Homo sapiens: one gene and its partners. The protein of the gene in region 1 purifies or fractionates together with the protein of each later gene. This does not show direct contact. Each region holds a gene or a part of one and is shown in the gene's direction. Other genes may lie near its edges.

The links.
Region 2: the proteins of DDX18 (region 1) and RRP1B purify together in Homo sapiens (affinity purification with mass spectrometry; 2 studies listed by BioGRID and IntAct, with this or other methods). This does not show direct contact.
Region 3: the proteins of DDX18 (region 1) and RBM28 purify together in Homo sapiens (affinity purification with mass spectrometry; 2 studies listed by BioGRID, with this or other methods). This does not show direct contact.

The regions. Positions count from the first base shown.
Region 1 is NC_000002.12:117,810,190-117,818,496, forward strand, and holds the start of DDX18 (ATP-dependent RNA helicase DDX18), read left to right. Parts: upstream 1-4,501; 5' UTR 4,502-4,588; coding exon 4,589-4,673; intron 4,674-7,254; coding exon 7,255-7,539; intron 7,540-8,307. UniProt on the Homo sapiens protein: ATP-dependent RNA helicase that plays a role in the regulation of R-loop homeostasis in both endogenous R-loop-prone regions and at sites of DNA damage.
Region 2 is NC_000021.9:43,689,714-43,697,026, forward strand, and holds the end of RRP1B (ribosomal RNA processing protein 1 homolog B), read left to right. Parts: intron 1-574; coding exon 575-727; intron 728-1,725; coding exon 1,726-1,789; intron 1,790-3,476; coding exon 3,477-3,670; 3' UTR 3,671-6,366; downstream 6,367-7,313. UniProt on the Homo sapiens protein: Positively regulates DNA damage-induced apoptosis by acting as a transcriptional coactivator of proapoptotic target genes of the transcriptional activator E2F1.
Region 3 is NC_000007.14:128,319,462-128,327,754, reverse strand, and holds part of RBM28 (RNA-binding protein 28), read left to right. Parts: intron 1-1,863; coding exon 1,864-1,937; intron 1,938-3,060; coding exon 3,061-3,196; intron 3,197-4,163; coding exon 4,164-4,228; intron 4,229-6,330; coding exon 6,331-6,489; intron 6,490-8,293. UniProt on the Homo sapiens protein: Nucleolar component of the spliceosomal ribonucleoprotein complexes.

The DNA.
Region 1 (8,307 bases):
AGCTGGAAGCTATCATCCTCAGCAAACTAACACAGGAACAGAAAACTGAACATCACATGTTCTCATTCATAAGTGGGAGTTGAACATTGAGAACTCATGGATACAGAGAGGGGTACAACACACACCAGGGTCTGTTGGGGGGTTGAGGGTGAAGGGAGGGAACTTAGAGGATGGGTCAATAGGTACAGCAAACCACCATGGCACACATATACCTATGTTACAAACCTGCACGTTCTGCATGTGTATCCCTTTTTTTTTAGGAGAAATAAAGAAAAAGAAGAAGAGAAAAAAAAGAAAAAGGACATTAGTGGAAAAACTAGTGAAATCTGAATAAAGTCTAATTTAGTTAATAGTGATTCACTAACGTTAATGTCTTTATTTTGATAAATGTATCACGGCTACATAAGTTGTTAACGTTAGGGAAAACTGGGTAAAGGGCACTGTTTTTGCAACTTTTTTGCAAGTCTAAAATTATTCCACATAAGAAGTGTATTAAAAATAAATTCATTTCCATCCTCTTATTTCCGCAACATACTGTACAAGCAAGACTCAGTCTGTGATTCAATCATCAGTGGTCAGACTATGACTCGAAGGGAAGGAAGTCAAATGCAGTTCATTTTAACATTGTCACTATCCCCTTATTCACTCAAGCCTGACCCAGCCCCTAGACTCTTTCCCCCTGCAAATCTCCTCTTATGCTCCTGACTACAAATCTGCTCTTGATCCCTTGAATTGTTACTTAATAGCATATTAAGACTTGTCTTTGACAGCCTTTTCTCTGACCTTAGATCTTTGCCTCCTCAAAAAATACCTCCCACCTGAATAGCATGCTGTCCTGCCCTCCCACCCATCCCTCTTTATTATATTGCATTGTCTGGTTGTAATGTCTTCCCAGCATTTAGCTTCATGCAAAGGTATCTTGTTCAATCACAAGGTTTACTTATACCTGTCGTCTCTTATCCAGGCTGTAATCTCCCTGGAAATGAGGACTTTTCCTGTCTTGTTTACTGCTGATCCCTGAGGCCTAAAACAGTACCTGGAATGGATAGATGGTATTTTTTTAAATTAATAAATGAATAAACTTCTTGACAGAAAAGTTTCTGTTATATGTTTCTGTATCCTCTCCAGCTCCTAGGACCACTGCAATAATGACTTGTCATGAATTGTGGTGATGCTCTTTAAAATAATCTCTCACTCTTATGTCCATCAGTTCACTGAAGAAAACCTTTCTTAAGTACCAGCCATCTGCTTTCTACAATGTAGAAATACACAGAACCAGATGCTGGTCCAGGAAAGTCAGGTAATGTGAAGGAGGCAACATCATGCTTATTTACAATAACATAGCACTTTTTAAGTTCCAATACACAACAGAGTGGTTAACCTTATAGAAAATAGCATTTGAAAGTTCCTAGAAAATCACTTCAAGAGTCCTAATGCAGTGATCCGAGAGGATGAGTCAGTTATTTCTGGCTCACAATTCTATGATGTTGGTGAAATAGATTGATTTCTTTTCCCAGTGAAGTGGGACGTTTTTAATTTGAATGACAAACTACACAAATCTGCGTTTTATTTTACAAACACTTGTCTCAGGTTTAAGGATCTCAAGTGAAAACTGAAAAACAAAACAGCATGAATAAGACCTGTTCTATGTTAAACTTAATTATTTTTAGTCAGGAGGTAAAAGACAGAAACTCCTGGCCAGGTGCGGTGGCTCATGCCTGTAATCTCAGCACTTTAGGAGGCTGAGGCGGATGGATCACCTGAGGTCAGGAGTTCGAGACCAGCGTGAATAACATGGAGAAACCCTGTCTCTACTAAAAATGCAAAATTATCTGGGTATAGTGGTGCATGCTTGTAATCCCAGCTACTTGGGAGGCTGAGGCAGGAGAATCACTTGAACCCAGAGGCGGAGGTTGCGGTAAGCCAAGTTCGCGCCATTGAACTCCAGCCTGGGCAACAAGAGCAAAACTCTGTCTCAAAACACACAAACAAACCAACAAAAAAAAGACAGCAACTCCCTTCCTGCTTCTGCCTGCTGCTGGCTCAGTCCCTATGCATAATGAATATTGAATGACAGACTCCATCCCCAGACCCCTTCCCAAGGCTAGGATGTTGCTCCTGTGATGTGCTTCCTTTTCACTGCATTCATCATAGTTTACCATAATCGTTTAATTTTCTGTCTTCCTTGTAAGCTCTGTAAGCTCCACCTAGGCGAGCCAGGTCTATCTTGTCCACCATTTTATACCCAGGATTTGGCACATGCCTACCACACACTCTTAGCACAAAAATGCTCAAAAAATAGTTGCATAATGACTATATTATGCGATTGTTTTATGGCGAATGACCATATTCTGAAGAGAGAGACCTCTGTGATGGAGAGCCCAAGCAAGAAGTTTTAAAGACTGAAACGCATTCTGAATAGATACTGGGATAGGCTCCAGCTGTGAAGAACAACAGGCTTTTCAGAAGCACGTGATTGTTACCTCATCCTCACAGGTAATTTTTGAGTAGCTAACCCAATGACATTGTTTTCTTTGCTAGAGTAACTGATGATGTGGCCTTGGAAATTCACTCTGTTAAAAATAACTCTCAACCCTAATTTTGAGAGTTGATTTGAAGTTATAATTTCTCATTCTTCTTCTAAAAATCCAGAAGAATTGGCATCAGTAGCTTTATCTATGTTTCTTAAAAGGTTATCAATCCCTAACGTTAAGCATTTCCATGCACCTGAAAGGATCGGCTTCTCTGATCTAAATGTCTTAAACACCTCGTAAATGTGGGTTTTTTTGGTTTTGAGGAAATGACTGCCAATCTTCACTACTAGCTAGAAAAAGTCACACTCTAGAAAAAAGGGAGTACCTTTCCATTACTACTACCAAAACATAGCCCCACAAATTTAAGTTACAACATAAAAGAAATAACAAATTTTGAGCACTTTCTATATATACTTCAGTTGTATCTATTTCAAAGTCACAGACCCAAAACTCACACATGTAATCAGGTAAATATATATGTATGTACATAGAGCTATAGAAATAGATACATATGTGTATATGCATATATATACTGATATATGCATAAATTTAAACTGGCATATATATTTACACTGAGATAAATGTTTGCGTGTGTGTGTGCGCTCTTACATTTCTGAATCATTCTTCAGCCTGCCTGATCATTAACAAATTAATCTAAGCACATTATTATTTGTTTGTCTTAGTTTTCCAGTCCAATCCAATGTGATTTCGAAGTCAATTCCTTCACATTCTGTTTAAACTCCCTCCCAAGTTTTCTCCCTCTCTGTTCCTCACTATGATCAGGTCTAATCTCCAGGGTCTCATGTTCTGCCCCTCCAAGTAAACAAATTAATCCAGGTTTCATGGACTCTTCCAGTTGTTCAGCTCAAATTGATTACTGTTAAGGGGAATTTGAGGGCATTGGGCCAATTTTTAAAGACAAATATGAATTTTTATGGAAATCTCCAAGTATTTTAATGTTGATAACAATTTTTTTAAAAATTAAATACTATATGCATACCCCTGTCTTCCTCCCCATCCCAAAAAAGAGATGACTATTAGCTAGCCACATTGCAATTTCTGTCCTGGACTGCTGAAGGGTCCTTGGGTATACTTAAGGAATATATAAACCTCTTTTTCAAACTGCAGTCAACCTATTATTAATGTAGTAAAGTTAATTTAAATTCATAGGAATCAGTATTTTTAGTAAGCTAAAAAGAATAATTTAGGATGGAATGAATGGAATTGAAGGAAAAAGAGTGAAAAGCAAGAATATTATTTTGAGAAATGTTATATTTATGTGTGTATGTGTACCAAGTGACACAGAAATTGTATTTCTGAGGAGAGTGGCCAAACAAGTTTGGAAATGCATATATATAATTTAGTTCTATTCAGTTTCCCAAATACAGTTGTCCCTCAGTATCCACAAGGGATTGAGTCCAGGACCCTCTATGGGTACCAATATCTTAGGATACTCAAAACCCTTATATACAATAGTGTAATATTTGCATTTATTTTACACACAACATCCTGTATACTTTAAATCATTTCTAAATGACTTATAATACCTTATACAACCTAAATGCTATGAAAGTAGTTATCACACTGTATTATTTTTAATTGTTTTTTTTTTAATGTTTTCAATGGGGGAGTTGGTTGAATCCACAGACAGGGAATTCAGGTACAGGGAGGGCCAACTCTAGTTCTGCACCCACAGAGGATAGGAACATAAAAATGCGGACTCCCTAAGGCCTCCTTCCCCTCCACGTTCTTTCTTCAGTCTTCCTCTAGGGGGAGCTCAAGTTAGCTTTAGCACAGTGTGAAGCCAGTGCAGCGTCTCGCTTCCACTTCTCCAGGGGGCGCTGCAAAGATTTTGGTCGCCAAAGATATCACGGTGCGCGCGTCTGGAAGCATTTCCGCTCTGGAGCATTTTCGTTCCGCCGGGTGCCAGCGTTCCTGTGACGCGTTTCCTGTTGGCCGAGCTGCGCACGTGCGGCCGGAAGGGAAGTAACGTCAGCCTGAGAACTGAGTAGCTGTACTGTGTGGCGCCTTATTCTAGGCACTTGTTGGGCAGAATGTCACACCTGCCGATGAAACTCCTGCGTAAGAAGATCGAGAAGCGGAACCTCAAATTGCGGCAGCGGAACCTAAAGTTTCAGGGTGAGATGCGTTGACTCGCGGTGGCTCAGAAGACCCACGCGCGAGCCCTGGCGCGTTCGGGCGGCCGGGGGCCCAGCTGCTCTGTGTGACGGAGGCAGCTTCCCCTGCAGCGTGTGTGATTGGGGAGAGTGAAAAGGCAGCTTCCACTCGGGACCCGCGCTGCTGCCCACTCGTCGCGTGGCTCCAGCGCTGCTCCTGACCTTTCTGAGCAATCAGTGTCTTCTTACAACGTTAGAGCGGGAGGACTCCCCGTTCACTTCTAGGCTTACGACTAACCCTGCCTTTTGCATTTCCACCTTAGCTTTTGGTTCCCTCACCACCTGCAAGTCGCACCTCACCTCATCCCTCATTTCCGGTTATGCTGCATGAAACGTCTCATTTCCACCCACTTTTCACATCTATTTAATTCCCGTATTTCTTTCCCCAAAAGCCCGTCTGGCTGTTTCCACAGAGCTTCTTTGATACTATTGCCTTCCTCTACCCACTTCCACACGTTCTCGTAGCACTTTCTCACCAGAGCTTCTACGTATTTGTGTCCCGCACAGTGACCTAAATGAAAAGGATTTTATCTGAATGTCACCTTTCTTACCTACCTCATTTGCAGTCCCAGTGTCCTGACAGTGGGGCCACAGATCTTGAAGTAATTGTGTTAACCTGTTGTCCAGGTTAAGATACAAACTCCCCGAGGGAAAGTTTGGAGGCACAGTGCCTTGCCCCAGTTGGTTTTCAACAGACATTAATTGAAAAAAAATTCTGCAGGAGGCAATAGGTTTGTGAATTTTAGGAATATGTTTTGAAATACTCTTGTATTTCTAATTCCTATAGAATAATACTACAGCATTACTACTTTTCAGCGCATATGTAAGTAAATTTGAACAAAAGATGGTGTTTTATCTTTTTCAGTAAACAAACAGGGAACCTTTGGTAAGGACATTCTCAGGTACAGTCATGCATCGCATAACAGGAGGGGGGATACATTGTGAGAAATGTGTCATTAGGGGCTTTTGTCGTTTTGCGAACTTTATCTAGTTACACAAACCTAAATCTACTACACACCCAGGCTACATGATATAGCCTGTTGCTCGTAAGCTGTCATCCTGTACAGCATGTTACTGTACTATACTCAGAGAATTGTAACACAATGGTAAGTGTATGTATGGCTAAATATATCTAAACATAGAAAAGGTACAGTAAAAAGACTATGACATGAGAGATTTAGAAAATGGTACCTCTGTATACAGTACTTACCATGAATGGAGTTTGCAGGACTGGAAGTTACCCTGAGCGAGTCAGTGAGCGGTGAGTGAATGTGAAGGCCTAGAACATTACTGTACACTATAGACTTTATAAACACTGTACACTTGGGCTACACTGTTGAGTTTTTTAATACTTTTATTCTTAAATTAACCTTAGCCTGCTGTAACTTTTACATTATAAACTTGTTAAATTTTAACCTTTTGACTTTAATAACACTTAGCTTACAACACAAGCACATTGTACATACAGCTGTACAAAAAGTTTCCTTTTGTCCTTATTCTATGTGATTTTTATTTTATTTTTTTTTCTTTTTAAGCTTTTTGTTAAAAATGTAAAGACACAGACACATTCAGTTTCACTGTCTTCCGCTTCCACATCTTGTCCCACTGGAAGATCTTCAGGGGCAACAATAGGCATGGAGCTGTCATCTCCTATGATAACAGTGCCTTCTAAAATACCTCTCTCCCTGAGGCTCTTTTACAGTCGACTCATTTTTTTTTAATAAGTAAAAGGAGTAAACTCTAAAATGATGATCAAAAGTATAGTAAACACATAAACAAGTAACATAGTTTATTATCACGTATTATGTATTGTACATAATTATGTGTGCTGTACTTTATACGACTGGCATTACAGTAGATTTGTTTATACTAGCATCACTACAAACATGAGTAATATGTTGCACTACGACATTGCAGTTACTGATGGCACTAGGTGATAGGAATTTTTTAGCTCCGTTATAATCTTATGGAGCCACTGTATATGTTGTCCTTAATTCACAGAAATGTCATTGTGCACGCATTACTGTATTTGCATATGATAAATATTGGAGCAAATAAGTGGTCTTATCAACTGAATTTTCAACTCACTGCAGTCTAGAAGAGTTGGGGTTGAATGTTTTGAAGTGGTATGAAAAATAGTACTTGTGTGAATGAGTTGTAAATGTCTTTTTCAATATATCAGTTAATCATATGTTTATCAAATACTTATGTTTATTCTGTAACTGCCATTATCTGACCTCATCTGTTTAAATATTTGACCTCATTGAAGTTTTCCTGTCCTAGACTCCTTAAAGTCAGATGTACGGTCTTTTGCAGTTAAGAAATCAATATAGCTTTCCCTTTTCCAGTATTTTTTCTTTAAGATAACTTACTTTCCCTATAAGGGAACACCATAAAACTATAAGTTGTTTTAATTACATGAAAGAGAAGAAAATCTAAATAATTTGTGTCAGGAAGCCATGGAAGTTCTCATTTGGGATTTCAGTGTTTCTAAGTAAACTTCTCCTTCTTTGTCACAGTATATGTTCTGTTTATTTAAACAGGGGCCTCAAATCTGACCCTATCGGAAACTCAAAATGGAGATGTATCTGAAGAAACAATGGGAAGTAGAAAGGTTAAAAAATCAAAACAAAAGCCCATGAATGTGGGCTTATCAGAAACTCAAAATGGAGGCATGTCTCAAGAAGCAGTGGGAAATATAAAAGTTACAAAGTCTCCCCAGAAATCCACTGTATTAACCAATGGAGAAGCAGCAATGCAGTCTTCCAATTCAGAATCAAAAAAGAAAAAGAAGAAAAAGAGAAAAATGGTGAATGATGCTGAGCCTGGTAGGTATTTATTATCTTTGAACTTCAGCCATTTAGTTTTTCACAGACGGTTATTGTTCCTCTTTCTATTACTATTGTGTGCACATGACATGAGAATTCCCTGTACTCACCAGTATGTTAGAGATTAGCCTGGTAGCTAATGGAAACATTTTATTGGCAGAAGCGGGGAGTCCATTTCAACTTTTCTCAAAATATTGAGGAATATATTTTTAATTTCACTAACCTTGAAGAAAACCTCTCTCAGAAAAGACTCTCCTTAGAATTCTAGAAATTTTCTCTTCTTTTTAAGTTACCTTTTTTCCTGCTTGATTCTTCCCATTTTCCTTCCATAAATTCCTCCCTTTGAAAGGAATATTAGTTACAAAGTATATAAAGTAGGAAACTTCTGAATAAATGGAACATTAATTTCCAAGTGCTAAGAATGGCAGGAGGAAAAGGAAGGAATGTTTTTTGAAGATGATGGAATTTCAGTAAGCTCGGATGAAAGAATGGACATTATAATTGAGATTTGTATAAGCAGAGATATCAAGGTAGGATAAGATAGGGGTCAGCAAACTATCCCTCCTTCTACCTGTTTTTGTAAATAAAGTTTTACTGGGTCATAGCAATGCCTATTTGGTTGTGTTTATGGCAACAGAGATCATATGACCTGCAAAGCCTAAACTATTTACTATCTGGCCCTTTGCGGAAAGTTTGCCAGCCCCTGAGTTGGAACATCCTATTCATGTATTTTACCTGAAATAAGGGTTTTATTTAGAAAGGGACTTT
Region 2 (7,313 bases), on another chromosome or scaffold:
AGAAGCTCCTCGGGCTTCCCTGCCCTCCAGGCGGCACACTTGAACCTGCCGGAGCCACCCGTGTGTCGGCAGCGGCACTGGGCTGCCCACACCTCTGAGAGCCAAGTACGAGACCCGGTCTCTCTCTGGGTGGCTGTCAGTTGCTGCACACGCAATGAGTGTCCTGGGCCTGCCTGTGAGGGACCCACAGCCCCACATGGGCATCACTGTCCTCCACACCAGACTGCCAGCGCAGTGACGATTCAGCTACAAATGGGAGAGTCGATCTTATTAACAGATCGGCTTTGAAAGGCCAAAATCCCCATTTTGAAGATGAAGATAAAAGTGGGTCCTTACTCTGACGAGGCGTTTTCATCGCCCCTCTTGGCATGGTGCCATGATAGCGGTCGTGTTGTGCGTGAAGCCTGAGCTCTGCCGAATGGAAGGGCTGTCTGCAAGTGCGGTGCGGAAGACCGCGGGCCGTCGGGTGGGCTGGATCTGCCTGGGGCTCTGCCTTCCCCTCCTGTGTGTGTGGGCAGCACAGGAGGCTCTGTCGTCTGACCCCTCCTCCGCTTCTCACCCCTCGCTCACGTAGGGAAGCAGTGGGACTTGCAGTTCCCTGAAGAAGCAGAAGCTGAGGGCAGAGAGCGACTTTGTGAAGTTTGACACCCCCTTCTTACCAAAGCCCCTGTTCTTCAGAAGAGCCAAGAGCAGCACTGCCACCCACCCTCCAGGCCCTGCCGTCCAGGTACGCACCCTCCCCAGAGTGGCACAGCACATTTCACCACAAGGGCACAGATGGGCTTGAGCTGACAGTGCTTCCCATGCCGGGCCTGGAGCCCCACTGTGGCCCTCTGAGCCTGTCCACAGTGGACAGGTTCCACGGCCAGGGTAGCATAAGGTCTGAGTGGTCTGGGACCCACCCTGAGGGATCACAGTCAGGAAGGGGACTTTGAGGGGCGGTTGATCCACACATTCTGCCTCCCAGGGCTTCCGGCTCAGGGTTTGCAGAAACCAGTTTTCTCTCGTGAAATGTCACAGTGTTAAACACAAGTGGTGCAAGTCAGCAGTAGGAGGTCCACACAGAAATGTGGGTCAGAGCAGGAACTTGAGGCAGTGCTTCCTGATGCAGGCTGGATCCACTTCCAGGAATGTAAGTAGGAAAGAAGATAGTTGATTGTGGTGAACTGTTGGGATATGCAGATAGCTCAGAGTCCTTGTGCACAAAAAGCTGGAAACTGTGTGTCCATTGTCCATTGCAGTGAGATTCCATCATAGGCATCGTCTCATCGATGTCATAGAGTCTTCAAGTTAGAAGTTCAGAACTCTCCAGCAAAAGGCAGGGGAGTCTTGGCATTTTTCCTCACGGGTTCTCAGTGGTGAACTGTTTTTAGGACAGTTCAGGCATCCTCTCTGTTTGCCTTTCTTCCCTGGATCGTAGAACCCTGCAGCGGTAATGAGGCAGTGACCGCAGATGGGCCAAGAGTGTGGGCACCACTGACCCTGGGCTGGGGGGTTGCGTGTGTGGGACGCTGGGAAGGACAAAGGGCGGTCCTGGTGAAGCCCCGACAGGAGGGTCGGTTTCAGTCTTGGCCGCAGTCCCTTTGGCCTCTCCCTATATGTGCCACTCAGTAAGCAGCAGTGTGGGCGGCATACCCTCCAGGGCAGGTTCTCCAGAAAAATCTGACTAAGCGCCTCCACTGCACTTGCGTCACTCCTTTTGTTCCTGTTATTTCTCTTCTGCAGCTAAACAAGACACCATCCAGCTCCAAGAAAGTCACCTTTGGGCTGAACAGAAACATGACTGCCGGTAAGTGGGGTTTTGCCAGCGGCAAGCTTCTCTGGAGCACAGCTGCAGCTCCTGGCGCGGCTCGCAGCCTGGTTCCACAAGGCGGTCGGGGAAGAGGGGGGTCCTAGCTCCTCACTGCCCATTTCTTTATTTTTATTTTTTTTTTTTTTTTGAGACAGAGTCTCGCTGCTCTGTCACCCAGGCTGCAGTGCAGTGGCGAGATCTTGGCTCACTGCAACCTCCGCCCCCCCAGGTTCAAGCGATTCTCCTGCCTCAGGCTGCCGGGTAGCGGGTAGCTGGGATCACAGGTGCACGCCATCACATCCAGCTAATTTTTGTATTTTTAGTAAAGATGGAGTTTCACCATGTCAGCCAGGCTGGTCTCAAACTCCTGACCTCAGGTGATCTGCCTGCCTCGGCCTCCCAAAGATCTGGGATTACAAGCGTGAGCCACCGAGCCCGGCCCCTCACTGCCCATTTCTGAGTCAGAAGGAAGCACCTATGTGTCTGTCCCTCATCCTCAAAGGGCTGTGAGTGGGGTGCCAGTGGTGAGTGGGCAGCCAATTGCCTGGGACCTGTTAAGAGAAGCTACCTGGTGAGACGTGATCCAAAAAGCCGTTTTCCCAAGTGTCTTTCTAAATACTGAAAGCCGTCCCATAGAGAGGCCATTTGAGATCGTAGTGCTCCATCAGCTGTAGCTGTCTCTCTGCGAAACTTCGGAACCACTTGCTTCTTGGGCGACAGAGAAGGGTAACCCCTATCTTCCTACTTTTCATATTGGTGCCATCCATTCGAGTTGCTTTTACAAAGGAAACCAAAGTTTTAAAAAGTAGTATAGGCCAGGCGCGGTGGCTCATGCCTGTAATCCCAACACTTTGGGAGGCCAAGGTGGGCAGATCATGAGGTCAGGAGTTCGAGACCAGCCTGGCCAACATGGTAAAACCCCGTCTCTACTAAAAATACAAAAATTACCTGGGCGTAGTGGCAAGCACCTGTAGTCTCAGCTGCTCGAGAGGCTGAGGCAGGAGAATTGCTTGAACCCAGGAGATGGAGGTTGCAGTGAGCCAAGATCGTTTCACTGCACTCCAGCCTGGGTGACAGGCTGGGTGAGACTCCATCTCAAAAAAAAAAAAAAAGTATTATAACGAATTTAGGACCTGACTCTTGTTGGGAACTGCAAGTAATAGAGAGTATGTGTATGTGTGAGTGTGTGTACATGCACCAGTATATATGTGTGTGTGCGTGTGCATGCACACATGCGTGAGTGTGTATGTTTAGGGAGAAGAGACTCTGAGAGACTGAGGAGCTCACCCAGCCTTTACAACTGGAGAAAATGAACAGTACGAATCCTGCAGCTCCACATAGCACAGATTTGTCCCAGACACAAATGCCTGGTTCACTCATTGTCCAAAACACCCCCACCCCCAATGTTCACCCTTCCAGGAGCCACCCTACCAGCAGCTCCCCTTAGTCTGTGCAGGCAGCCCTGGGCCCTCCCTTGGGAGGGTGAGTTGAGGCATGGGATGTGGCCTCACTGCCCTCCTTTCCTCAGAAGGCTCTTGGGCCTGCTCTCTGCAGGGCCTTGAGATGGCCCTGCTTCGTCCTAGCAAGTGGGTGGGGTCGGCACCCAGGCAGGACGCTGTCTAAGGTGTTGAAGGGACAGCTGTCGGACCCACTTAATATGGGGCCTTGCTCTCATTTGGGACAGAATTCAAGAAGACAGACAAGAGTATCTTGGTCAGTCCCACGGGCCCTTCTCGAGTGGCCTTCGACCCTGAACAGAAGCCCCTCCACGGGGTGCTGAAGACCCCCACCAGCTCACCTGCCAGCTCACCCCTGGTGGCCAAGAAGCCCCTGACCACCACACCAAGGAGAAGGCCCAGGGCTATGGATTTCTTCTGAGGAGCAGCAGAGTCCCTTGTAAAAGACTGCTTTTGTACAGAATGCGCTATAAATTATACCTTTAAGAATGTGGGGCCTTTTTTATGATTTTGTAAGTTCCCATAAGTTGTGTGCACGAGGTTCTGAGAGTGCCCGCAGGCTGCTGCGTCCTGGCCCCTCTGTAGTGGCTGCGGGCGTCTTGGTTGAATCTTTTGCTACAAACCATGTTTGCGTTTGAGCTCTCCAGGATTTTACATTTTTGGGTAACCTCAGTGATTCCCATTGGTGTAGGAAATGAGACCCTCTCTGAAGCTGAGGAGAGCACGTTGATCTGAACTTTAAATCAATCAGTGCTGCTGGCACAATGAAAGGTGGAACTGCACTTCTGTTGAGCTCTCAGTTCTGCGGAATTTGGTACTCATTACCGTATTCGCCGTACTAAGTTGGTTTCTGTTAGTCTTAACAGTCTGTTTTCTTTTAAAAGCATGTAGGGCTTCATTGCCATGTTCTGTGGGTGTTTGGCAGGTTACCGATGGGGAAGATTCTTGTCACAGAATCAGCAATACCATAGTTTTTCTACATGTGCTCAGCTGGGGGTGTGGACAGGTAGGGGTGGGGAAAGAAGAGGCTCTGCGTTCTGGGGGCTTTTTCTTCTCCTCCCCCTACCCGGTTTCCCTCCCTGTTTTCCTACCTCTACGGCAAGCCCAAAGTGTCTTCCCGGGAGCCCAGCGCAGCCCCCGGCTCTTACCCAGGACCCCGCCCCGTGCTGAGCCTTCTGCTGAGGTCCTTGCGTGGAGCACACTCATTCCTCCAAGCCCTTGCGCTCCCGTTTCTCTCTCTCTCCGTCCACGTTCCAGCCGAGTCACTGCCTGACCGGCTCCATGGCAGCTCCCCATCTTCCCTAGAGGCTGCCTGCGCATCTGGAGCCTGCGCTCCGGCTCAGCGACCTTTCCTCTCAAATGCGGAAGCGTGCACTTACAGTTCAGACCGTTCTCCTGTAAGTTCATTACAAACACGGGCGGAAGGCACTCAGGCTTTCGTTGGAGAAACAGAAATAAGGCCTTCTTTTGAGCAGCGATTGCTGGATCATTGATCTGTTTGAGGAAGTGTCTGACCTGGGCCTGAGAGCTGGAGAAGGTGCAGATTCAAAGTGAGCGGCTCCTGAGGAGAGCCGCCAAGGCTGCTCGCCTTCTCCGTGGCTTCCGCAGCTACCGTCTGCACGGTGAGAGGGCACGGGCACACGGTTCGGGCTGGCGTGCAGCTCTCCCAGCCAGCCACGCTCTGCTCAGGCCTGGAAGTGAAAGCCGCCTCCTTCCCGTTATGCCCCCCATACAGGAGCCTCGGTTTTTCAGCAAAACGCGGCCAGTCCCCTTCTCCACTGCTGCCTCCCAGCAGAGGGCCCCAGGATCTCCAAGGTCCCAGCTATGGCTTTGGACAACGTGGCTTCGGCCCCTGGGGTTGCAGAGCTTGCATTGGGTTTACCTCGGTCTCATTCATTCATGGAGCCAAGGGTGGGGTTTCACCTGCGAACATCAGACTGACTTGCTGGCGTCAAGAGCAGTTGACTCACTGATGAAGGCCCTGGTGAGGAGAAAGCACTCTGTTCTTCGCCTACTCTGTAATCGTTTTGTCATAATGAGCCATGAAAAAAGTAATGAACTTGTGCTGTTAATCGTCACTGTAATGAGAAGTCTTACGTACAACATAGCTGTGGTGGCTTAATGGCTGCATTAGATAGGATCCTCACATCCCATTCAGAACCAAAACTGATACAGTGAAACAATTAAGGTGAGCAAATAGTTTTAACTTTTCTTTTTTTTTTTTAAGTTTCATTCTTCCTAGAATATTTTTCTAACAATTTTTATTTCAGCTTTAAAGATGGGTCATATAGCCAAACGGGCCATATAATCCAACATTGTTGAGATGTCTTAGGACATCTAAGGCAAAACTGGCACATTTGTTCTGCAGACTATTGCAGGAATGTTTTTTCCTAGCATTTCTATATTATCTGTCCATTCTGAGGAACCAGTGAATGTCCTATAAATGCACCTCCTGTCAAAACCATGCCTGAGAGGTCCCGGCTGGGAGTGACAGGGTGCTTCTTAGATTCTATTGGTCCTTCTCTCATTCTCCGAACTTACTCCTTTTTATGGGTAAGTCAACTAGGTTTACAGTCCCTTATTTTTAATGCCTAAGTTTTGACAGCAGGAAGAAAACAATTTTTTAAAAATTCTCATTACATAGACGCACAAGAATATGTCACATAAAGAAAATGTGTTTAGAATACTGGTTTTCTATTTACGCATGATATTTTCCTAAGTAAAATTGCCAAGTGGACTTGGAAGTCCAGAAAGGAAAATAATTTAAATTAATGCTGGTGATCTTAACAATATTTTGTAAAATGATGCTTCCCCCTTCTCCATGGTCTAGTCAATTTTGTACAATTAGGTATCTGACTTTACAAGTTTGTTATCCTTTCTAATTTTTACTGAACTGAAAGCACAAAGAAGACTACACAGAAAATCTGGAAACAGTTGCAGGTGTTGGGAGGAAGATGAAATCGAGCTGTCTTTTAACTTTTGTATGTGTTTTATCAGAATTTGCTGGACTATGCTGGCAAGGACTTTGTTTACGATCAAATTGTACTAGTGTCTGCAGGGTTTGTCAGTACTCGTCAAAGCCAAGTCCAATTAAAAAAAAAAGTCTTTGCCCTCCAATTTGTGTTTGATGTTGACTTTCAGTATGGGTAAAAATAGGCCTCTTTGGGAGCTGTTCCAGCACAGCAGAGTTGGGAAGATATTGGTGTTGGTCGGGTTTGAAAACAAGACTCTGGGTACCATTCTCTTCATCTCTCTGCTGCTGCCAGAGCCGGTGGGGGCGCTGCTCCGGGGATCGTCTCCAAGTGCTTGAAGCAGGCCTCACTGCGCACAAATGCCCTTGCTCACTATCGTGTCTAAAACATCACTCCACAGGCCTACGCTTGTGACGATGAGCGGAGAAGTGCCAGTGTCCCGGGTGGAGATCTCCCACTGCAGCCCAGAAACTGACTCCAGCTAGGGTGAGGCGGGCACAGGGAGGCTGCAGCTGGGTGAGGCGGGCACAGGGAGGCTGCAGCTAGGGTGAGGCGGGCACGGGTGGGCTGGTACCCAGCAGACAGCCTGTTCTGGGTGTTGGCAGTGGGTGTGGTCAGTGTTGGGCAAGCAGAGTACAGGCATGGCGGAGTCTTTATAGGCCCGTGTTCCCCGAAACAAATTTTTCACCTGTTCTTTGGATCCCAGACAAGTCCACAGACAGACACTGAACAAGCAAGCAAACAAAAACAAACCCTGGGCCAGGCGCGGCGGCTCACCCCAGTAATCTCAGCCCTTTGGGAGGCCTAGGCAGGCAAGTCGCTTGAGTCCAGGAGTTTGAGACCAGCCTGGGCGACATGGCAAAACCGTGTCTCTACAAAAAAAAAAAAAAAACAAATAATTAGCCAGGCGTGGTGGCGTGCATCTGTAGTCCCCGCTACTTGGGGGCCTGAGGCAGGAGGATTGCTTGAACCTGGGAGGTCACGGCTTCAGTGAGCTATGATCATACCACTGCACTCCAGCCTGGGTGACAAAATGAGACCCTGTCTTTAAAAAAAAAAAACAAGCCCTAGAGGAAGAAGGAAATCTGTTGT
Region 3 (8,293 bases), on another chromosome or scaffold:
GCCAAGGCAGGCGGATCACCTGAGGTTGGGAGTTCGAGACCAGCTTGACCAACATGGAGAAACCCTGTCTCTACTAAAAATACAAAATTAGCTGGGCATGGAGGCACCTGCCTGTAATCTCAGCTACTTGGGAGGCTGAGGCAGAAGAGTCACTTGAACCCAGGAGGCGGAGGTTGCAGTGAGCCAAGATTGAGCCATTAGACTCCAGCCTGGGCAACAAGAGCGAAACTCCGTCTCAAAAAAAAAAAAAATTGTTTTTTTGTCAATAGCAGAAATAGAGATGGGTTAATTGGTCCTGCATCTAATCAAGGAAAGGCATGCCTTATGGAGATTCTAGAGTATGAGCCAAGAATTGAGCTCCTGGCTTTCTGGTTCCCTGCTATATTCATATAGTAGAGGACAGAGACTTTTACTCTGAGAAGCAGATCTGCCCATATCTGATGCCTCCCAAGTGACTGTGTGACAGTGAGATCTGTAATTAAGTTCAGGGTTAAGTGGTTCCTGCTTTATTTTTTAGTCCTCTAATAGGTACTTCATAAGTGATGCTGAATTAAGTGTTAGGCTGGAATTTCTCTACCATTTCATGTGGATATTTCTTTTCTTTTCTTTTCTTTCTTTTTTTTGAGACAAGGTCTCGCTCTGTCACCCTGGCTGTAGTGCAGTGATCATGGCTTACTGCAGCCTTGACCTCCCGAGGTCAGGTCATCCTCCCACCTCAGCTTTCTCGGTAGCTGGGACTATAGGCATGCACCACCACACCCAGCCAATTTTTTTTTTTCTTTCGTAGAGACAGGGTTTTGTCATGTTGCTTAGGCTCTAACTCTTGGGCTTAAGCGATCTTCCTGCCTTGGTCTCCTAAAGAGCTGGGATTACAAGTGTAAGCCACCACACCCAGCCTTCACATGGATATTTCTTATTAAGAGAGATCATGAGACTAAAGTTCTAAGAAGAATTAGAACAGATGAAGGAAGTAATAATAAAATTTCATTAAGAGCAGTGGTATCTTTGTCTTGATTATTTGGTACCTAACATAGTGCCTGTGTCATAGTGCAATATGCGTCACTTAATGATGGGGATACATTCTGCAAAGTTCATTATTTGGTGATTTTGTCATTGTGTGAATGTCATAGTGTACTTATACAAACCTAGGTGGTATGGCCTACTACACACATAGGTCATATGTGCTCCTAGGCTACAAACCTGTACAGCACAGCATGTTGTTATACTGAATGTTGTAGGCAGTTGTAACATAATGGTAAGTATATGTGTATCTAAGTATTTCTAAACATAGAAAAGGTATAGTAAAATGCAGTATAAAAGATAAAAAATGGTACAACTGTATAGGGCAGATCCATTGTAATCTTCTGGGACCACTGTTGTATATGCAGTCTGTCACTGACCAAAACGTCCTTATGCAAGTACATGGCTGTACTTTTTTTTTTTTTTTTTTTTGAGACGGAGTCTTGCTCTGTTGCCCAGGCTGGAGTGCAGTGGCACTATCTTGGCTCGCTGCAACTCCGCCTCCCAGGTTTACGCCATTCTCCTGCCTCAGCCTCCCAAGTAACTGGGACTACAGGTGCCCGCCACCACGCCTGGCTAATTTTTTGTATTTTTAGTAGCGACGGGGTTTCACTGTGTTGGCCAGGATGGTCTTGATCTCTTGACCTCATGATCTGCCCGCATCGGCCTCCCAAAGTGCCGGGATTACAGGTGTGAGCCACTGCACCCGGCTACATGGCTGTACTTAATAAATGGATGCCACCTATCCCTTCCACTCTGTGTCAGGCTGTTGCCATTTGCAATGTTGTCTTTGGTTTATCTGTGGGAGTTTGGGATCTCACTGAATTGTGTCTCCTTGTGCAGGTTGTGCATTTGCCCAGTTCATGACTCAAGAAGCAGCTCAGAAATGCCTTCTAGCTGCTTCTCCAGAGAATGAGGTAAGGAAGATATTTCCTTTACCTTATAACACAGGAGGCAGTTTGGCTCTTAGGGGCAACATCTGGTATTTATACAAAGCTTTATTATTATTTTTCTTGTCAGTAATAATAAAACTAACACTTATTTAGCACTTTGTGTTAGGCACTGAACTTTACATGCATTATCTTAATCATTACATCAGCCCTTTGAGGTAGGCAGAATTATGATCTCTACTTCATAGGTGAGGAAAAGGGGATAATAACGTATCTGATATTTGTTGCTTGCTGTCTGTGTCAGCCTCTATCCTAGACTGATAACATGAAAGACTAGGATGAGGTATTAAGGTCGTCTGTGAAGTAGAGTAGATGTTTGAGAGAGAATGTGTGTGGGTGATGGAGAATTACTCCATTTGTTCTATAGTCGAGTATAATGTTATCTAATATTGCTGTTATTTCTTAAGTCCTCTTGAGTAAGTACTCTACTATTTCACTAGCTTACTTTACAATACTAGACATTTGCCTGGTTACAGATAATTTTCCTCAGTTTGGGTCTACTTTGGGACTAATCAACTCCCAGAAAATAAATTCTTTACTGCTGACTGCCTGAAATACACATGTGGCCTTTTGCACAGCTATACTAAATATTGTGAGGCCCAGTGATCCATTTGTAGCTAGCTGAGCTGAAACGTCGTAGGGCTTGGCTTCCATAGCGTAATTGATGTTTGCTGTATCCCTTTCTGTGGTGTTCTTGTCAGGTGCTTAGTTTCTAGTTTCTACTCATTATGTGTTGTTTTGTTTTGTTATTTTTTTATTTTATTTTATTTTTTTTGAGGTGGAGTCTCGCTCTGTCTCCCAGGCTGGAGTGTAGTTGCGCGATGTCCGCTCACTGCAAGCTCCGTCTCCCAGGTTCATGCCATTCTCCTGCCTCAGCCTCCTGAGTAGGATTACAGGCGCACACCACCATGCCCGGCTAATTTTTGTATTTTTAGTAGAGACGAGGTTTCACCATGTTGGCCAGGCTGGCCTTGAACTCCTGACCTCAGGTGATCCACCTGCCTCAGCCTCCCAAAGTGCTCGGTTTACAGGTGTGAGCCACTGTGCCCGGCCATTATGTGTTTTAAGAAAGGGTTGTGATCTGTTACAGGCTGGTGGGCTTAAACTGGATGGCCGGCAGCTCAAGGTTGACTTGGCGGTGACCCGTGATGAGGCTGCAAAGCTTCAGACGACGAAGGTGAAGAAGCCGACTGGCACCCGGAATCTCTATCTGGCCCGAGAAGGCTGTGAGTAGGGAGATGTAACCCACACTTCTAAGTACCTGGCCCTGTGCCATAATCATTGATCAAGCAATAGTATGCCTGGAAGCATGTTTCAAATTAAAAACCCAAATGTTCTCTTTAACAGTGTTATATGATCATTCCACTTTAATAAATGTGGCTCTCTATTAGTAAACCTTCACTCGTTTTTGTGGATTAACTGTCCCATTATCTTTTCTGCCTGGTTGCCTTTAGTCTTTTTCAATAGAGGATTGGCAAGGCAAAGGGGGAGGAAGAACTCAAAATACCTTTGCTTCTTGTCATCATTTCTAATAAGAGGTTTTCATTATGACTAAAATTACTCTTTTGGATTATTCATGGATTTAAAATGTGCACCCAATACTTTCCTTTAGTGTCAGAAAGACAAAAAAATTAGCTTTAAATTTTTAAAAAAATTCTTCTAGGTCACACAGCATTTATCAGCTCACCTCCTCCATAGCTTCACAGCCTGTACTAGTAATGTCCTTTAGCCTTCGACACCAGCCTTCTATGGCAACATAACTGTTTTCGGCTGGCTTATCTCACTGTTTAGTAATGGACCTCAAGTATATAAGGAACAGCAAAGTTAAGTTCCAAGGGCAGATTATAGGTGGAACATTGTGCATTCTAAATGCCCAAAATGTACTTATGTTCCATACTTCTTCTAGGCCTTTCTTTCTGACTTTGGGCATGTACGTGAAGATTCTTTGAGGGGAGAGAAGGAGAAGAGGAATAAAATCACAAAATGTTTAGAGTTTTAGTCCTTGAGAGCAGCTCTGAGCCCAGAACTTAGCCCTGTAGCCTATTTCTGGACCTAACCAAATGCCACCGTGTCCTGGCCAAGATAGTCCTCTGGGCCCTGTACAAAGAGTTTGCATCATTCAAATCACATTCCTCTTGTTGCTCAGTGAAAATTCCCTTGTTGATGTCTTGGCCTTTTTCCCTCTTTCTGCAGTGATTCGTGCTGGGACGAAGGCTGCAGAGGGTGTGAGTGCTGCTGATATGGCCAAAAGAGAACGGGTGAGTAGATTAGGCATTGACCTTCACGTTCTGCGTGGCCTATAAATCAATCAAAAATAGTTATCGAATGCTAGATGTGCTCATCAAAGAGCCCAGTATGGTCACAGACCATACTTATTGCCCTGTTAGGGAGAAAAGCACATAGGTGAAATAGCAAGTAACCCAACATCATACATAGTATTCTATCTGTTTTGTATGCTGGTATAAAAGAACTGTGTCTTATTATTTGTTTCCCTAGTGCTTGGCAGTAAATGTTTGCTGAACACATGCTGCTACATCATGCAGTAGACAGTCAGAGGCTATTGCTACATGTAATTAGGTGTCAGTATAAACACAGAATAATGTAAAAGAGGAAGATCAGAATGAGCTGGAGTTATTAGAGAAGGGAGAAGATATGGCTCTTGAAAGGGGTAGCTGTCAGTTGGGAGGAGTTATAATCTCCAGATTATAAAATCATTTTAGAAAAACTCCATTTTATGGATGTTTCCGATGTTAACCGATAACTCATATTCCTTTGCTGCTTGGTAATGTTCCCAGTAATTTTTACTTTTTCCCATATAACTTACTTTCAAAAAGCCAAGCCAGCCTAGAAGGGTAAAGATGCATAACTGTGAACAGAATTAGCTATGGAACCTTAACATGCAGATGAGGAACAGGGGTGAGAGTGTAATGACAGCAGGAGGCAGTGCGTCTTTTTTTCAGTGGGCACAGATTCTGCACTAGTGTTTTCAACTTTTGTGGTAGTGAACACCTAGAAATCATAGGCTCTGGAGACCCATCCTTAACTGGAGAAATTACAGAAAATTTTAAAGCCTCAATTTTATAAGGGCACTATATACCCTTGTCTGATCACAGTGCAATAATGACATATTTAATTTAAAACTAATTTTGTTAGCAAAAAGCTCATTCAATGATAGGTATGCATTATAAATTCACAGCAGGCACAGCTTTTCCTGACAGAAAAATAGTCTGTTGAACTTAAACATGATAGCCTTTTCAGATGTTCCTTTAATAGTCGTTTTCCAAGGGATTTGTTTATTTTGTGATCTGTTGGTACTTTTACCAAACAAGAAGCAGCAGGACTGAGAAGACTTGACAAAAGAAAAACTTTTAATTGAAAACTTTTTTCTACCAACTTGGTTTAAAAAAAACTAATTGGGAGAAGAATGTCATCTTTCATTTCATTTTAGACACAGATCACGCAGGAACTGGGGTTTTGTGGCAGCATAGTTGAGGGTATTGCTCTAAGAGCAAAATATGGTTCTGTGGTCATTGATACTCCTTTGCCTCAGGGTGGCAGAGTTGAGACAACACAGCATTCTGTCAAGTATTCTTTGAATAACTTCCATTTCCTTTTGGAAGGATTAGATAATCAGTTGAGCTGGTGGGTAGATGAGGACTGGGCATAGATATTAATCACAGTATTATTTGTTGTTTGTTCTGAGCTACATTTTGAGCTAGGGAATTTTTTTTTTTTTTTGACCGAATTTCACTCTTGCTGCCCAGGCTGGAGTGCAATGGCACGATCCTGGCTCACCACAACCTCCGGCTCCCAGGTTCAAGCGATTCTCCTGCTTCAGCCTCCCGAGTAGCTGGGATTACAGGCATGCACTACTATGCCTGGCTAATTTTTGTATTTTTAGTAGAGACAGGGTTTCACCATGTTGGCCAGGCTGATCTTGAACTCCTGACCTCGGGTGATCTGCCTGCCCTGGCCTCCCAAAGTGCTCGGATTACAGGCATGAGCCACCCTGCCCAGCCTTATATTATCTCATTTTGGCCTCACCTCAGTGCTCAGAGACCTTGATCTACTGTTTCGTTTTATAGATGAAAAATTGTGGCTTTAAAATTTTATGTAATTTCTCCAGTTAGGGATGGGTCTCCAGAGCCTATGATTTTACTATTACCCACCCACCATCTTGTTCCCTTGGACTTTTCTTTCCCTATACTAGGCATTGTAAAGCTGCGGTGTGGGCAGTTTCCATCCGTTTTCTATATGTGTGGTTATGGGATGAGGATCATAATTCTTTCCTTTTGGAGAATTATGAGCCTACCTCTTAAAAAGAGTGGGTTGTACTGTTAACCATTGGTTGTTCTTTCAGTTTGAGCTGCTGAAGCATCAGAAACTCAAGGACCAGAATATCTTTGTCTCCCGAACCAGGCTCTGCCTGCACAATCTCCCAAAGGCTGTAGATGACAAACAGCTCAGAAAGCTGCTGCTGAGTGCTACTAGTGGAGAGAAAGGGGTGCGCATCAAGGAGGTGAGACGTGGCCCTGACCATTTTGGAGCTTTCATTCTGATCTTGGGTCAGATCAAGCATTTCCCTCAGGCTGTGGTGCCAGATTTTGTTTGTTTGTTTTGAGACGAAGTCTCACTCTGTTGCCCAGGCTGTAGTGCAGCGGTGCAATCTTGACTCACTGCAACCTCCTCCTCCTGGGCTCAAGCAGTTCTCCTGCCTCAGCCCCCTGAATAGCTGGGACTATAGGCGTGCGCCACCACGCCTGGCTAATTTTTGTATTTTTAGTAGAGAAGGGATTGCACCATGTTAGCCAGGCTGGTCTCGAACTCCTGACCTCAAGTGATCTGCCCACCTCGGCCTCCCAAAGTGCTAGGATTACAGGCGTGAGCCACTGTGCCGGGCCATCAACAGACTTTCTTCTGGACATGTTGTCAGCATGCATAGCTGAGTTTAGCAGTTTCTTGGTTTTGTTCTTTTTCTTCTAAGAATTGTCTTTTACATCTGACTGAATTACAGCAGAATGCAAGGAAATCTCTGTCTGCATGAATTAATTTAGCAAGCATTTATTAAATGCCTGTTGTGTGCTTAGCATTATACTTTGTGCTATCATGTGAATTTTCTTGCAGAGAAAATAATCTGCTTTGCTTTTTGGAAGAGTATTTTACTCCTAGTTAGATTCTTACCCTGTGTTCAGAGTCCCCTATGCCTTGTGGTCAACACAGGAAGCCATGTAGATGTTCAGCAGTTGAATTAGAAAAACACTGGGTTCACACCAACTTGGTTAGACTCTGTGTGAGTACAGAACTTTTCTGCCTCCACATTCCCCTTTGCGTATTTCTCTTTTCTTTTTTTTCTTTTCTTCCTTTCTTTTTTTTTTTTTAGATGTGGTCTTGCTCTGTCTTTGGCTGGAGTGCAGTGGCACCATCTCGGGTCACTGCAAACCGCCACCCCCCCCCCCCCCAAGCTCAAGCAATCCTCCCACCTCAGCCTCCCAAGTAGTTGGGCCTATAGTTACACACCACCATGCCTGGCTAATTTCTTTCTTTCTTTCTTTTTTTTTTTTTTTTTTTTGAGACGGAGTCTCACTCTGTCGTTAAGCTGGAGTGCAGTGGCATGATCTCGGCTCAACGCAACCTCCGCCTCCCGGGTTCAAGCGATTCTCTTGCCTCAGCTTCCCGAGTAGCTGGGACTACAGGCATGCACCACCACGCCCAGCTGATTTTTGTATTTTTAGTGGAGACGGGGTTTCACCATGTTGCCAAGATGGTCTCGATCTCTTGACCTCAAGTGATCCGCCTGCCTCGGCCTCCCAAAGTGCTGGGATTACAGGCGTGAGCCACCTCGCCCAGCCCATGCTTGACTAATTTCTTGTTTTTGGTAGAGACAGGGTTTTGTCATGTTGCCCAGGCTGGTCGCAAATTCCTGAGCTCAGATGATTCCCCTGCTTCGGCCTCCCACAGTGCTGGAATTATAACAGTGAACCACTGGGCCTGGCCTTGCATATCTCTGTCATACTGGTTACTATTACCCTGGCCTCAAACTGTCTGTCAGTCACTTCTCCCCACTAGACTGAGTTTTTGAGGCAAGCGTTATCTCATTATCCCCAATCCTTGGTGTAGTACCTGGTACATAGTCATCTCTTAGTCAATATTTATTTTAAAAGTACCATTGCCAATATTTTGGGCCTGCTTTACTCTGTTTCGCTACCATAAACTGTTTTCCTAATCCCTGAAAACCTCTTCAAAATGTATGGATTGGTATTTGGGAGATTACTTGAGAGAATGTGAATATATCAGCACATATCTGACACCACAGTTAGTAAAAC